Linked DNA regions of Homo sapiens: region 1 is linked to region 2. A link means that fine-mapping ties the variant in region 2 to the expression of a gene that starts in the linked region. Tissue or cell type: whole blood. Region 2 holds a variant in brackets; the other region holds the start of a gene. All regions are shown on one strand. Distances are from middle to middle.

Region 1 (8,338 bases), 84 kb before region 2:
AGAAATTACCCAGCGCAGCTCTGCTCAGGGCAATAGGTCCCTTTGCCTGTGCTGGATTTGGGTCAAACAGCTAAACCTCAAATCAGAAAATATCAGCATCATTTTGTGGGGACACAGAAGTGTGGGTAACAATAATGATAATCAAACCTGATCAAAGATGCCATTTCCTGAGCAACGGAGCCAGTTGCTACACTCAAAAGTCCATTATTTAGAGGGTGACTGTTCTACGCAAAGATCTATCACACTCCCCTGGGACACAGACTTCTCAAACCAGCTTCATCGAATATGAACTATATCATCAAGAAAGGGTCTGGTTATTTTCTTCCATCCCCTCTTTTGATTCTAGGTATTGATAAAATAAATTGACTCCTTAGTCCTATTAGGAAGTTCTGGGAATGTTTCCTTGACGAATTTTCTTCACTCTGGCTCATCTAAATTAGAATGTTTGTATTAAAGATAAATGAGAAAAAAATTAATGAGGTCGAATGAGAAGGTTTATAAAGATTTGTGAAAGGCACATGGAGCTCAGACATCATTAAAGAGCAGAACTCATTCTCAAGTTTCCTATCCAGCATGATATCCACTGCTATCTCTGTGGCCACAGAGCCTGGGAGTGGCAAAGTGGCTTCTCACTGAGGAATCGGACAGGCATGTTTCTATATCACGGTGAAAGGAAAAGAAAAGGAAAAAACCCCAGACAGCAAACAGAGATTGTGACAAAGATAACCACAAGGAATGTAAATAAAATATGATAAGCAGCTCACTCACCATCTCATCCTCAACAGCTCTCTCAGAGGCAAAAGTAAAAACATATAAATTATGTGTTTTCAAGGAGAGTCAAGCAATACTCTTTGGGAAGAAGCCACGGATATAAAAAAATTTTTCCGCATTTGTCTCACTTCTCTAATCTCAAGGCTTGAGATGTATGTACTTTCAAAAGAGACTCATCGAAATTTGGGCAGCATGAAGTTGAGCCCCCTGTTGGTAAGGACCTTCCAACAGTGACTCGGTCTTATTGGTGATAAGCCCTGTTTATATGAGCTTTCAAAAGCCTAAAAACAGGTTCTTTCAACATGACACCTTGAAATAAAATAAACGCATTGCAAACACCAACTGCAATAAACCAGGCTCACGCCAAAATGCACACGTGCACATTTCACAAAATAAGGGGGAGACATTTCTAGTGAGGAGCAATCTCTATGGGAAGGCAAGCGAGAGCGCCCACCTGCCAAGGGTCACATGCTCCAGAGCGCACAGGATTCCCTAAGTGAAACAGGCCGGTAGGAAGAACTTGAATAGTCAAAAATCTACAAACTCTTCAGAGGTACAGATCATCAGGCCATAAAAGCCACCTCAAGGAATTTTGGTCACATCTCTCTAAGGACTTCCAAAAGCTACCCTCTGCACTTGAACAGGAAACCTGCCAGCTCCCCTCAATCATTCTGCTCCTTTGGAATAGAAGTTACGCCTTTAACCGAAGGAGAACTTCAAATGCGCCACTGGTATCTGGTGCCACTGCCAAAATATATTTACATCACCTTCTATCAGTCATTCAGAGCCCAGTGCTGATATTCTCTTAGTAAGACAAGGAGGGGGTTAGGAGGTTGGTCATCCACCTCCTCATCTGCAAGGCTAAATGCAGGTTTTCTTGTTTATTCTACTTGAGACCCTGGGGAACTGGTCTGGTGTCTCAGGCTCTGATAAATTGAACACACTCCCCGCAAATCATGGCCCAGGGAGCTTTGGAAAGGAGCTGTGGGGCATCTGTTTCTGCTAAATGCAATGCCCTCTGCGGGTTGTTCCTCTGTATGAGGACTCCTAGACAAAGGTTAGCCTCTCCCTGCATCTGAGAAACTGTGCTTGGGGCTGTAAATGTTCATTGAGAAGCCTCCAACCTAGCCAGGGCCTGGCCTCATTGTCCTAAGTCTTCAGATGCACTCAGCCTCCAATGGTGCTGTATTTTACCAGTTAAACACGTCTTCAAAGTTTACTACGAAACAATGTGGCTCCTAGCTTGCCAAAAGTTTAACTGCAGGATTCAGTGGATTTTATCTGGCAGAGTAGCTGCCGTGACTCTTGACAATATTTGCCAGCAAAAGGCAGTCCTCAAACCTTGCAACCAGGGCAATCCCAAGGCCCAACGTGTCACTGAAGGAGTTCTTCTGGGAAAGGTCCCTCTTTCTCTTCAATCGCCTCCCGCAAATCCCCAGCTTCCAGAATCCAATTCAAGGCAGTCTGGCATTTCAGGAGACAGCAGTAAAAAACTTTTGATGGGATAACCCAGGACATAAATATTCCTGGCTGAACCTACTTTTGATTCTTAAATATCTGAAGGAGCTTGGGTTTAAGGAAGATAAAGGGAGAGAACCAATGAATAGGGAAAAATAAAATAAGTAGCATACCATGACCAAGCCAAACCAAGCTTGATATTTCCACATTATATTGGCAAATGGATGCTTTCACATATCACTTGTTCTGTCTTTCCTGGTGACCACAAAAAAAAAAAAAAAAAAAAAAAAATCTGGCTTCAAAAATCCTAACCCCAGACCACTGCATTGTGTCAGTGGAATGCAATCTAAATTGCCAGTCAGAAAGTCCAACCTTATATGTACCAACCAACACGCACACAAGCACCTCCAAGCCAAAAGTTGTAACGCCTGAACCCGTGCGTTTATCAATTTCATCATCCCCATACCCCTGCCGGGTTCCTGGCGCTGGGTAAACCGACAGCATCATGTTGCCATCGATGCGTCTTACAAGATGGTTTTGGGCAAATCCCCTAAAGTAGGCAGAAGCAAAAACTAGGTTCCTCTGCCCGGGCACCTCCTCCTCCAGGCTGGCCCCCGGCTCCCGGGTGCCCCTTACCTGCAGGCGCTCCGTGGCCGGCTGCCACATCTTCCAGCCCTGGGTTTTGGCAGAGGAGACGCTGGCGAGACTGTCGATCGCGCCGGGGGGCGAGGGGCTGGGGTCCCGCTTTACATCTGGGGTCGGTGTCCGCGGGATGTGCGTCCTGGCGCTGGCCACCGCCGCCGGGTGGGCGTAGGGGGCTGCGAGCAGGAGGAGGCGCGGCGCTCAGCTGCCGGCAACTTGTGGGCACGGCCGCGCGCCGGCTGTCCTGGCGCAGCTGCGAGAGGACTGCGCAGCTCCGCCCGGGCCCGGCGAGCGCGCGGCGGCGGCGGGGGCGGCCGCTCCCTCCTCCCCCGCCGCCGCCGCCCGGACCTGCGCGCTCTGAGCATGCCCGGGGCGGGCGCCCAGGGGCCGCGCGGGGCGGGAGTGCAGCGCGGCCGACTCTAAATCCTAGTGAGGGGTGAATGGGGAGGCTAGAACAGCCGGCCCTTCCCTGCAGGAAGCCCCCATTGGGTTGGGGTCTGGGAAAAGGGACAGACTGGCTGAGGGGGGAAGGGCCTGGAGCCGGGGGTGGTGGGGGCAGCGGGGATGTCGGGGGTGGCGGGGGTGGGGGAAATTCCTAAAATAAGGAAACCGTAGCCCCGGGGGTCCCGGGTTTCCATATAACAGGCATCTCTGAAGTGCCTGTGCTGTGCCTGGCGCTGTGCTAGGGAGACACTTCCATTCATTCTTCCCACTCCAGTTAACTGAGCATCTATTAGGCTCCAGCCCCTATGCTGGGTTCTGAGGATGCAGCGACGCAGAATAGAAGACAAGAGAATGTTCCTTCTCTCTGGAGCTTACCTTCTGCTTTGGAGAGAGAGTCGTGACTGAGCAAACACATCAACAAGCCGGTGCTATATCGGGTGGTGATAAAACAGGGCAGATGTGGGAAGAAGGGGAGAGGAGAGCTTCTTAGACAAGGGCCCTGGGGAATGCCTGGAGTAAGACCTGAGAGATGAGAGGGATTGGCCACGAAGAGGCCATGCTTCATGATGGGGAGAGGACTCGACTCCTAACCTATACAGGGGTGAGGAGGGCCATGCAGACTCCCGAATCACTAACTCATCCTGAGATCTGCCAGGTGCAGCAGGAGGCTCTCAGAACCCAAGGGAAAGCCGCTCTGGGCTCGCAGGCCTGGAGGCTCCCCGGCTAGTGCCGGCCACCATGAGATGACTTCCTGTCCTAAACAGGCCAGCCCTTCCCATTCTCTTGACAACTCGGCAAAATAACTATTAATATTTTCACCATGTGGATCAAACAAATGAGGCTTATAAGGTTTAGGTCACTTGTCCAGGTCACACAGCCAGTGAGTGGCTTAGAGAGTGCACAGTCAGATGACTTCAGGGCAGGAGATGTGGCCCTGCGCCTCTAACTGACCATGGAAACCCAGTGGAAAGAGCATCCGTCTAGGGCTGGGGGTTAAAGGCACTTGGCAAGTCAGGGATACTAAGCTGATTCTCGAGCTGATGAAGAGTGGGAGAGGAGAACATGGTGGGAAGAACTCAGGACATAGAATGACCAAAGAGAGGAGCAGAGAGAACACAATGTTTGTGGGGAGCCCTAGGCTCCTACAAGGCAGGGTCCTGAGAGCAGAGGGGTGTGAAAGAGAGGCATTTCATACTGAGACAGCTGCACAGCTTGGGCCGTGAGCTACTCATGCAATGTCAAAATCCACACTCCATGTCTGGAAGGAGGATCTGTCCATTTTCCTTGTTCTGCATGACTACAATGATTTCCAGATATGGAACCACTCCAGAATCTAACCCTCAGCTCATCGGACCCTCGCAGCAACTCTCCGTGGGACAGAAGCCCCTATCTCCCAAGGCTTGGGGAGCACAGGGTTCACAGAGTCACACTGTGGGGAGTTACAATGGCGATTCAGATCCAGGATTCCAGGCAGATCCTTCTGGACCCTGCGGTTGCTATGTTGGTGCCACCAGCCTTGGCAAGCCCAGGACCCTCAGTGCCTCTAGGAGCCTCTGGCAAAGCCACAGAGCTGCCTCTGAAGAGCTTGTCTCTGTCTCCCTGGATATCCACAGGACCCTCCCACTCCTGCCTGATAACCACCTGAACCTTCTCAGCTCCTTCTCCAGTTCCTGCTACTTGTTCTGAACTTATTAATAAATCTCTTTTCATGAGGTGTTTGCCTGTCAGCCCGCACAGACATGTGCCTCACATGCTTGGTGATATGGTCTCTGTTTGCTTTTCCGGTAACTCCTCCTGCACACCTCCACACCTACAAAATTCCTTATGACCTTCCCAGCCCCCAGTTCTCTTTTATCAAATCCCAAAGTAGAAAGAAATGCAATTCATTACAAAAATCTAGAAAATCCAGACATGCATATAAACCCCACCCCCCAACCCCCCCAGGAAGCTAAAACAGGAATATTCAGTTGCCAGGGATGTCTTCAGACTTAAGCTCTGAAACCATCCTTGCTTGCAGATGCTTCCGTGGAAAAGTGATTTTGTTTTAAATAGCAGTGGAATGAGTTAACGGCCTAAATTCAAATCGCATTAGAGCGTTAAATCCTGTCTTCTCACCTCCAAACGTAATTAATTGTTATGACTCAGTAATACAGCTTTTAGTACGGAGTATGGTGCTATTTAAAGAGAAAAAGCTTTGGCTCTGTAAAGATTGCTTTCAGTTACCGTTCCCACTTTGCAAACAGATTTGGTAAAGTAAAGAATGTATTTAAACTCAAATGGCACTCCTGTTTCAATTACCTTTATGCCACGAATCAGGAAGCTAGGGGAGGGGGTGGAGGAGGGGCAATTGCAGGCTTGTGGGAGGTGACAAAAGGATGGGACAACCTCCCACTCATAGATTTTGCTCCCAAGTCTTCCCATTCAGGAGGAGCCTGCAATGAAGGGTGAATGAAATAGAGACATCTGCTGGCTAGAGATGAGACCTGCATGCCAATGTCTCCCAGCTCTGTTCTGTGACATTGGAACCTCATCCTTCCTGGTGAATCTGAAAATGCTGCCTTACGATGTAAACAGGTTTGTTCTGAGCAAGAAACCACCCTTAAAATGAGCAGAAGGTGTTTTGGTGCAATGAGTAGAAATATTAGGCATGTAAATGTGTGCCTAATTTCATGTACTTAGTCTCCTGCAATTACCGAAACAGGTCTAATCTTGTCAATAAATACCATTTGAAGGCAAATGACAGAAATCAAAAAAGCTTGACAAGGCACAGATGCGTTATTCACACATTTGGTTCAGAAAAATAATTACAGCATCCCTAGAAATTGTGTTAAGCCAGATTTGATCTAGTTCATGGTTCTGAGCCCTAGCATAAGCAACCTCAATGTCCAAGTCAGAGTAATGGTGAATGAAAGTATGGTCCAGCATATCAAAGAAATATTAAAATATTATGCAGCATTTAAAAGGATAATTATAAAGTTGTGTTGCAGCTGAAAATGATACAATTATGGTTTTTAAAGTAGGATAAAATGTATATAATTTGAATATATGTATAAAATATTTATCAATCTCAGTAAATGTTGGAAAGGAGCTAGGACAAGCAGAAGACTCAGGTTGAATCCCAGCCTTCGAACTGTCTACCTAGGTATCAGCTTTTCACAAGTCATTTGCCTTGCTGAACCTCAGATTTCTCTTCTATAAAATGGGTGATAATATTACTTAATACTTAGGATTTTGGGGAGGAGTGAATGAATTAATATGTGCAGCATGCCTGACACATGGTAGGTGTGTGGGAAACATTCGTTTTCATCCCCATTATGTTTCTTTCTCTTTTTATTATTGGAATGATCCAATTCTCACAAAGCGGCCCATGCTTCTTGTGGTTACACTATTTCCATTTGGAATATTTGTGGGTTTCAATTATTTGCTTTAGATTCTCAAATAAAAATGACAAAGGATATTCAAGCTCACTTACGATTCTTTTTTCTTTTTTGAGATGGGATCTCACGCTATCGCCCAGGCTGGAGTGCAGTGGCGCGATCTCGGCTCACTGCAACCTCAACCTCCCAGACTCAAAGCAATCCTTCCACCTCAGCCTCCTGAATAGCTGGGACTACAGGTTTGTGCCACCACACCCAGCTAATTAAAAAAAAAATTTATGGAGATAGAGTATTGCTGTGTTTCCCAGGCTCCCTGGGCTAAAGTAATTCACTTGCCTTGGCCTCCCAGAACGCTAGGATTACAGGCATGAGCCACCATACCTGGCCCACTTACAATTCTAACTTAAGCAGATGACAGCAAAATTTATTATGGTTGTGTATTTAGCAGAATTATCATTAAAAAGCCCTTGTTATGGTATCACTAACCTTATTTCAAAATCACCAAAACAGCTGTATATAAATGAGCAATATAAAAAAGTCTGAAAATTCATTCGACCATTTAAACCTCCCAGTAGTGACAGAACCACTGGCTTTCGTCCCTACAGAGTGATAGGAATGTATTGGGATGTTAAGATGACGCTTAACAGGGTAGGACTGGCTCATTCGTGTGTTGTGACTCTCCTACTCTTGACTCCTCATATCCTCACAAACCTTAGACACCTGATAGATTATTTTCAGAAATGCCCACAAAAATCTCCCCTCCCCAAGGAAGTCATGCCCATTTGCACTGTAACTTGCCTGCTTCTCTCATCATGAGATGCAATCTGTCCACATTCCTTGAATCTGTGCTGGACTTGTGGCATACTTGACCAATAAAATGCAGCAGATGTGACACTGTGGAACTTCTGAGCTTGGGCCACAAAACACTTTGCAGCTTCTGCTCTCACCCTTTTGGAACATAAGTCATCCTATGAAGGAGCCTGGACTAGACTCCTCAAGATGAGAACAACACAGAGGGAGGTCAGACCATGAGTTAGCACCCACAGCCAGATATGTGAGTAAGGTCATCTCATAACACCCAGCTCAAGCCACTACACGACAGCAGCCACATGGGTGATCCCATGTGGGTCCCACCAGTGGAAGAACCACCCAGCTGAGACCTGCCAACTGCTGACCCACAGAATCATGAGTACATAACAAGGTTGGGTTTTATCCCTTAAGTTTTGGGTGGTTTGTTAGGTAATAATAGAAAACTGATAGAGAAAACATCACTAATAAGTGTCTGTCTTTCCCGCTAAACACACCCTTCTCAACATTTCCTAACAACCAATTGATCAGGGTTAGCAGTAAAATGAAGCCTAATAGTCTAACATAAAAACTTATTTCCTCTTTTGGTTTTATTTCTGCTCTCACAATTCCCTCATACACACCTCCATCCTAGTCTCAGATTGTGTGGGCCCTGTATCCAAGTCCCATCTGTTAAATTTTCTAGTAAGTCCCTCTGAAAAGAAGATGGGAATTGGGCTGGGCGCCAGCCATATAATGATTAAGATGAATTTATTTTCTGGCACAATTTGCAATAAACATGAACATATCTGCTCTTTTACAGCCCTTCTCACCCTCTCAGCGACACTGTCTCTAGACAG
Region 2 (8,338 bases):
TTGTCTGTAAAAGACCAGATATTAAACATTTTAGTCTTGTGCTGGCCAAGATATAAAACTGAGCATATGATATAGATACTTGTATAACATGAGAGGAGATAACATTCCACACATTTTTTATTAATGGAAGTCAAAATATAACAATAATTGAATACGATTTATTTTTGTAATACAAGTCTACTAAGGAGAAGAATAAAACTCTGTGGGGTAGAAAATATTTCACTTAATTGGGCTTCCAAGTGAGTGTGTATGGTATGGTTTGAATGTCTTTCTTTGTTGCTTCCAAAATTCAGGTTAAAATTTAACCCCCAATGCAACACTATTAAGAGGTGTGGCCTTTAGAACTGAGTCATGAGGGCTGTGCCCTCATGAATGGGATTAGGTGCCCACCTGAAAGGGCTTGAAGGAGGACTTTCACTCCTCACTTTTCACCCCCTGTCCCTTCCACCATGTGAGGACACAGTGTTTCTCCCCTCCAGAGGATGCGGCGACAATGCATCATCTTAGAAGTGGACACCAGGTCCTCACCAGACACCAAACCTGCTGGTATCTTGGTTTTGGACTTCTAGCCTCCGGCACTGTGAGAAATACATTTCTGTTCTTTATAAATTATCTGGCCTCAGGCATTTTGTTATAGCCACACAAATGGAGTAAGACAGTTGGCTATTGTCAAATCAATTTCAAATGCTCATTTGTTATAAACCACTCTCACTGCAATGAAAGGAACCAATCTCCCTGGAAAAAAATGGCTGATTCTAAGTCTGAAGCAGGAAACACACAAGATGAGCCTGGAGCATCCTGTATTGCCAGAAAGCAAGAAAGTGCTAAAATGCACGCACACACAGGCACAGGTACATACACACACACAGGCACATGTACACACACACAGAGATACACAATGATGAAGGTATGTCAAAGGTGCCGACTAGAAAAGCTCTCAATGGCCAAAGATGGAAAATTTTGAGCAAAAAAAAAAAAGTGTTAAATTATACTCCAAACAATAACAAAAATGTCCGTTAGTCCATACTAGTATAAATAAGTTATTGAATAAATAAACGTGGGAGAATAAACAAATTTCTCATGCAGAATCCCAAATAATTGAAGTAGATACTTTATCCTTAAGGAAGTGGAGAAGCATAACTCCCCGCTCCCTAAGTGTGGGCTACACATAGTGACTTCCTTCCAGAGAGTACAGTCTGGAGAGAAGAGGGAAAAGGTAATTTTACAGTGGAGAAGCCTGACCAATGCTTCAGCCAGGTGATTAAGGTCAGCATCCACAGTAATAAATCATGTTGTTAGTATGTAACCTTGATAAGACATGATGAACATGGCACTTTATCTCTGTGGTTGTCCTCCCCAAAACGTGTAACTACAGTCTGATCATGGGTCAAACGTCATAAAAATCTATATAGAGGAACATCTTAGAAAATACATAGTCCTCCTCAAGGTCATGAAAACAAGGAAAGTCTGAGAAATCATTGCAGCCAAGAGTGGCCTCGGAGACGTGATGATCAAATGTAATGTGGTGTCCTAGACAGGATCCTGGAACAACCAGAAAAAGACAGTAGGTAAAAAGTAAAGAAATCTGAATGAAGTATGGATTTTAGTCAATAGTAAGGCATCAATTCATTAATTGTGACAAATGTGCCCAACTAATGTAAAATGTTTATGAGGAAAACCAGACATGGAGTATATGGGAACTTTTAGTAATATCTTCACAACTTTCCTGTAAATCAAAATCTGTTCTAAAATAGAAAATGTGGCACATATACGCCATGGAATACTATGCAGCCATAAAAAACGATGAGTTCATGTCCTTTGTAGGGACATGGATGAAGCTGGAAACCATCATTCTCAGCAAACTATCGCAAGGACAAAAAACCAAACACCGCATGTTCTCACTCATAGGTGAGAACTGAACAATGAGAACACATGGACACAGGAAGGGGAACGTCACACACCGGGGCCTGTTGTGGGGTAGGGGGAGAGGGGAGGGATAGCATTAGGAGATATACCTAATGCTAAATGACGAGTTAATGGGTGCAGCACACCAACATGGCACACGTATACATATGTAACAAATCTGCACGTTGTGCACATGTACCCTAAAACTTAAAGCATAAAAAAAAATACAGAAAACACAAATAAAATAAAAACTTCTATATCCATCAAAAAAAAGTGTATGAAAAATTCACACACACATGCACAATCACTCTTAGTTTAAGCGCTGTGCAAAAACAAGCTTTGGGCTATATGTTGGCCTATGGGCCATAGTTTATCGATACCTGCTCAAATAGGCTACTTCCATTTCCATTTTGTAGCTGAAAAAACTGAGGTCAAGGACTAATTCTAATCACATCAGCGTTCATCAAACCCTTGTGATCAATTGTGTAATAATTGTGATAATTGTGATATAGTGTGAATAATATCAAAGTCTATGCTCTTTATTGTAGCATAGGAGAACTCTTCTTCCCCCTACCTGAAAGCATCTGATGATTCTTCATTGACTCCATCACTCTCTAATCAGGAAGAAATGTATTTTTAGGAGGTCCCGGGAGATTTTCTTGAAGGGCCCACTGAGCCACACTGACCCACAATCACCCCTAAAAGCAAGGGAAGCTGGAGAAGGTGACAGCTGACATTTTCAATTCTATGTTGCATCACAAGAAGGGCAGAGAAACGGCTGTGGTGGAGGCACCCAGTGGTATTTGCCAGGGTTGTTGTGAGTGGTTACTTATAATTTTAAGGTGATTTCATACATATGTTTCTTTTCTATGGTTAATGTTTTCCCTATAAGTAAACTACAAAACACTTTAACAGAAAGAACTATGACTTAAACTATCATATACCTGAAAAGTTAGTTTTGTTTGGTTTTGTTTACCTGGACTTACAACATTGTTTGAAGAAAAGATCAGTTCAGACTCCCAGACACTTCTCAGTTCTTGGAGAAAATCACAGCCAGACAAAATTGTTCAAAAAATTTATAGCCTCATGAAATGAAGAAACAGAAGCCAGTAGGGCAGAGTTACTAAGTGACAGGGTGGGAGGCCCAGGCCCCACTGTGCTAAGTGGAGACTTTGGTCAAAGAGGCCAACTCAACGGTTAAGACCACTTGGAAATAACTTATCTGCATGTGTCATTTTGTGGCAAGAGTAAAAAGCTTTGAAAAAAACTCCCGAATGAGCTGGAGACACTGCTGTACCATTTCTAGATGGCAGGGATCCCTGTCATTACATGTAGTTGCTTTGGCTTGTGAAGACTCACATATTAGAGAACTAATTATGGCTACACTGAGTTATAAGACCACCATCAGTTCAAGAATTCTGGAGTAGTAGTTAACTCTGGCTTATCAAGTACTATTTTCACAGCTAGTGCAAAGTAACAACTTGAGACGGTGGAGTTTTGACACCCTTAGAGAATGTGCTCCCTGCTCTAGAAGGACTATTCCTCACACATATCACAATGTACTAACTGCAGATCCCAATCATTAATCATAAAAGCGAGGGTACTATCCTACTTTGTGATCATGTCTGAATGTAAAACAAGAACAGCAGCAACAACAACAATAGCTAACGTGCTGAATCTTGGTGGGCGCTGGAGGGAGGCTAAGTGATACACACACAGTCTGGCATCCAATGCTCACAACGATTCTTCAAGGGAGGCCCTATCATGATCCCCATTTTTCAAATTTTGAAGCTTAGACCCAGAGAGCTACTTGTCCAAAGTCATTACCAAGTAAACAATTGAAGTAAGGTTTTAATCTACTCTGCTACAAATAAGCTGCCCTATAGTGGAGTTTACCTTTCCTTCATGGTGCTCTATGAAGTGTAATTCTATATTTATTTGTTTGTTAGATGAAGGTCTGGTTCAAAACAAGCTATAAGCTCGGGAGGCAGGATCCTCTGGTAGGGCTCTTGTCGGTCA[G/C]CATCTGCCTGACAAAGAATAAGTGCTCGATGAGATGAATTCTTATCATTGAATGTCCAAATGAATGAGCAAATGTCTTTAGATATATTTGGTGGCCACTCTCAGATGGTCAGAAGGCTCTGCCCAAGATCTGAATTTGCAAGCTCCATTAATTGGCTTTCAAGGGACAAACTGTGATTGATAAAAGACTTTAGTTTTTTAAACAAGTCCTTTAAGAGACATCGCATATAATGAATTTAAGACTTTGGGAGATTGAAAATGATTTCAGAGGGTGTGATTGAAGCAGCTTGCAAATGAAGACCAATAAGCAAAAAAGACACGGAGGCTCAGACAATGTCCAGGTGCTCGTGGGGGTCAAGAGGCAAATGGAGTACAACTCACACCTTTTCATGGCCCTCTCCTATCATCGATCAAGAAGTGTCTGAGCAACACACAACCAAAGGGTCTTTTATAGGAAGATGGGAGTAAGTATGTCTGCACAACACTCTGCTGCATGTTCCCATGACTGTTTAACCAACCAAGTTAATATTTTGTACTTACCTTACTTCCACTTAACTGAAAATATTAATGTATTGCACTGTATCATTTAATAATCAGAATGTGGGTGTACTGCTGTGTCATTTGTAGGATTAGGAACAGATGTTTTGAGGGTAGAGCGGGAAGGAAAAGAACCTTAAATAATTCTTTTTGCTTAAAACTCTCCCTCACACCTGGTTCCAGGACTCCTCTTGGCCTTACCTGACGTTCCTGTGTACAGTTAAAAATGCATTTTTAAAAATAACTCTGGGACTTCAGAGCAGCATTTGGATACAAAATGGAACTGAATATAGGGTGGCTCTAAACGGCCTTCAAGTTTCTAAGAACCATGGAGCTATTTGCTAAGGCAATTTCATTTAGCCTCCACAGGATAGCAGCGCCTCCACAGGATAGCAGCACGCAAGGTATTTCTTGAGGCCACAGGTGCCTGCCCTCAATGCCTGGAAGCATCTCCGGATTCCAGTGTGCCCACCGTTCACTTGTGCTGCATTTCACTGGCAAATTCGGATATAAAACTTCAGATAAGAATTCTTATTTTTTTTCCACACTTCACACTGACAAGCAGCTAGGGTGAGCTTACTGACAATTAGGAGGTCAGAAAGCCTTGCAGAGGCAAAGGAGGGGGCTCCGGCAGCCACAGAGGTGCACTCCTCAGGTTATTTAATATGGTATCAACCATGGGATTGTTTGGCAAACAATATCACATCCAAAACTTTTTATATATAGTTTTCAAAGAACAAAAGAGACAACTGCATCCTTGACTTGATCACATTTATTCAATATGGTTGGAAATTAGCAAGAATCAGAAGAAGCACATATCAATCAAATACAGCCACAAAAACATCCTGGAGATAAATAAAGCTGCACTATGAGAAATACTCACTACTGAAGGAACCAGTACTCTCTTACATTTACTACCTCTTAGCAACAAACAACTCAAATGTAAATTTAATTTACTCACAATATAGAACCCTTGACTTTTTAAAGAAAAATATAGATTCAAATCAATCAGAATTTGCCTCGCTAGGCCTTTTCGTTACGTATGTTTTTGAGGCCTAGTTCGACGACTGTTACGAAAATGACAAAAACAAACTCGAAAGAATGTTTCCACAAAGTTCAACAAAACAGTGCAGAAATAAGTTACTTACCCATGCACAGAATAAGGCAAAGGCTAATTTCATTCGGGTTAGGAATAGTAAATTTAACTAGTTTCTTTTCCACAAAACGAACATTTCAGACTTCTTTTTAAGTAACGGGTATACTCTATTATACATCATATGCTACGTTACGTGGTTTTCCTAACTCTACTCAGAAAGCCGGCACTCAAACGTCAAACAGAAACTTCTCCTTGATTAGACTTATTCTGTAACAACCACAGAAATTAATCTGGGTCTCGTGATAGTGTCTACAGTGAAAAGAGCACACACTAGTAGAAGCACACAGTTTAGAGAGCTGAAGGTACATTAAAACATCGTCTATAGGTTTCACAAATTTTGTTTTTAAAATATTTTTTCCAAACTAAAAGCTGCAGAAAATTAGTTCTTAAATATTCTACTGAAAACTCTTGAGCAGCTAGCATTTTAAATTTCTTAAGCTTTTTATTTTCTTAAAAATATTTAAATGAGTGTAGTATCTCATCTTTTTGAAAAATAATCCAAAAAAAGATTACAAATCTTTAGTTTTAATCAGTGTGACCAAGGGTTTGTCATCAGGACTGTAATCTTCATAGGCGATGGGGCTCACATCATACATTGCAGGCCGGGATTTCTTTCCAAACCTGAAATCAGAGAGAAAGGACTCTGGTTAGATAAATACTAGATCTCAAGTTTAATTAAAGCAAGTGATGAGAATAATTTATATGCATGAATTAAATGAAACTGTAAAAACATATTCTATAGCAAGCATAGAAACTTTAGACATCCTAATATTAACACTGAATGTGTATAAACATTAGTCTTTGGTGTTCGAGGCAAAAAAACATATTTCACAAAATGTAGAGCTCAAAGTTGGAGCTTGCAGGTTAAATCTTGGCAAAGCAGTCAAGCATGACAGCTCCACAATAGATTTTAAGAAAATGTGTATTGATTTGTCTTTTTCTTCTGAGGCCCATAAATATTTGGAGAGGTGAGTTTATTTTATATCTACTCCAGTGCCTGGAATATAGAACACCAGGGCAGTCTTCCCCGGGCCATGGACAGACAGCCTTTCCTGTGGGATTTTCAGGGGATAAGCTGTGAAGGTTTAAGGTCATCTGAGATCCCAACACAAAAGGGCAGAGGTGGGAAATGACTTCAGATACAGAGGTGTCTGTCCACAAACTATGCCAGAACTCACCATTGAATCCCACCCACCTATCACCTCCCAACCTTATGGACACAGAAGCCAATGTTTTCCTCAGAGCACAAAGCCATTGTCCCAACAGATTTGTATGTATCAAAATTGCCTCGACAGCAGGACTGCCTCTCAGAAGCCAAGGGAGTCAAAATCCAATTTCAGGACTTCCTGTCAAACCTGTCGTAAGGTGGCAATTATTAAAATAAAGCCAATTCAACTTCTGGGTGGTCTCTTCCCATTCAAGACCTCACCTTCCCTACAAGCCCTGGAGTGCAACAGGATTCAAACGATCTTCCACACTAACCCATCCTCCCTCCTCCTTTGTCTGGACAACATTTTTTAATTGTTTCAATTCCACCAGGGCTCTTTAAAAAGACATTTTAAAAGAACCTTAAATTTTACAAGGTTCCTAGGATGGGGTCCCTAGGAATTAAAGGGGCTTATTTGCCATGGCTCCTGTCCCAACTCTCCTCTTTTCCTATTTTTTCCTTTGATATGTTGAAAGTCTGTCTTCTCATGTATGGAGATGGGAAGTAGAATCAAGCGGGAAATGAGAAAACAGTGCGTTCTTCATGTGATCTTTCATTTTAAACAGTCATCAATCTTGTATTCCAATCCTCTCAAATTTTACTGGCCTTGAAGAGCACAAAGGCATATGCTATGCCAGACAGGCACCAGGCAAAACACGGGGTTAAAGAGTTAAAGCATTCTACCCTCAGAAAAACCCACAGCTATTACTGCAATATGACAAAAGACTTCAATAAATACTTTCTAAAATGTGAAGCCTCACTGAAGGTCCACCATTGTGCTCACATAGATGTGGGTCAGGCTCTAGCCTGCAGTTTGTTCACCTAAATTGAGTGAGGCCTGCATAATCTAAGGATAGGAAAAGTGTCAACAGAGTAAAAGTGTCAACAGGCCTGTTGGGTCTTACACTTTCTCCCAAGTCTGACAATTTCCTAGGCTGCTTTAAGATGCAAACATTTTGACAATTTATTTCTCATAAAATACCTAGATACACCACCACTAATAATAATTTAACCAAAAATATCCAGCAACCCAGTGAAGAGCTCTCCATATCTAACATAGTAGGATATAGAGAGCTTTGACTTGAGGGCCAACAAATTATATTAACTAACTAATTATTCGATTGGTTGGCTGAAAGGAAAAACCCAATTGTATATATCTTTAAAACATCCTTTTTTTTATTTTTTATTTTTGAGACAGAGTCTCGCACTGTTGCCCAGGCTGGAGTGCAGTGGCGTGGTCTCGGCTCACGCGGCAAGCTCCACCTCCTATGTTCGTGCCATTCTCCTGCCTCAGCTTCCCGAGTAGCTGGGACTACAGGCGCCCGCCACCACGCCCAGCTAATTTTTTGTATTTTTAGTAGAGACGGGGTTTCACTGTGTTAGCCAGGATGGTCTCAATCTCCTGACCTCGTGATCCACCCGCCTCGGCCTCCCAAAGTGCTGAGATTACAGGCGTGAGCCACAGATCCACTGAGTATGACAAGGCAAGGGCTGATGCCTCTCAAGAGTGAGCC

The links.
Region 1: it holds the start of PID1, and the variant in region 2 is fine-mapped to the expression of PID1 in whole blood (INTERVAL, PIP above 0.99).

What each region holds. Positions count from the first base shown.
Region 1 is chr2:229,268,149-229,276,486 of GRCh38, forward strand. PID1 (phosphotyrosine interaction domain containing 1) reads right to left here and starts at 3,139. Exons shown (of 3, transcript NM_001100818.2): 1 at 2,866-3,139. The coding sequence starts at 2,895.
Region 2 is chr2:229,352,414-229,360,751 of GRCh38, forward strand. DNER (delta/notch like EGF repeat containing) reads right to left here. Exons shown (of 13, transcript NM_139072.4): 13 at 5,216-6,238. The coding sequence ends at 6,127. Among named protein-coding and RNA genes, the nearest start is that of PID1, 85 kb to the left of the region's middle. The variant G/C (reference allele first, on the strand shown) is at 3,925.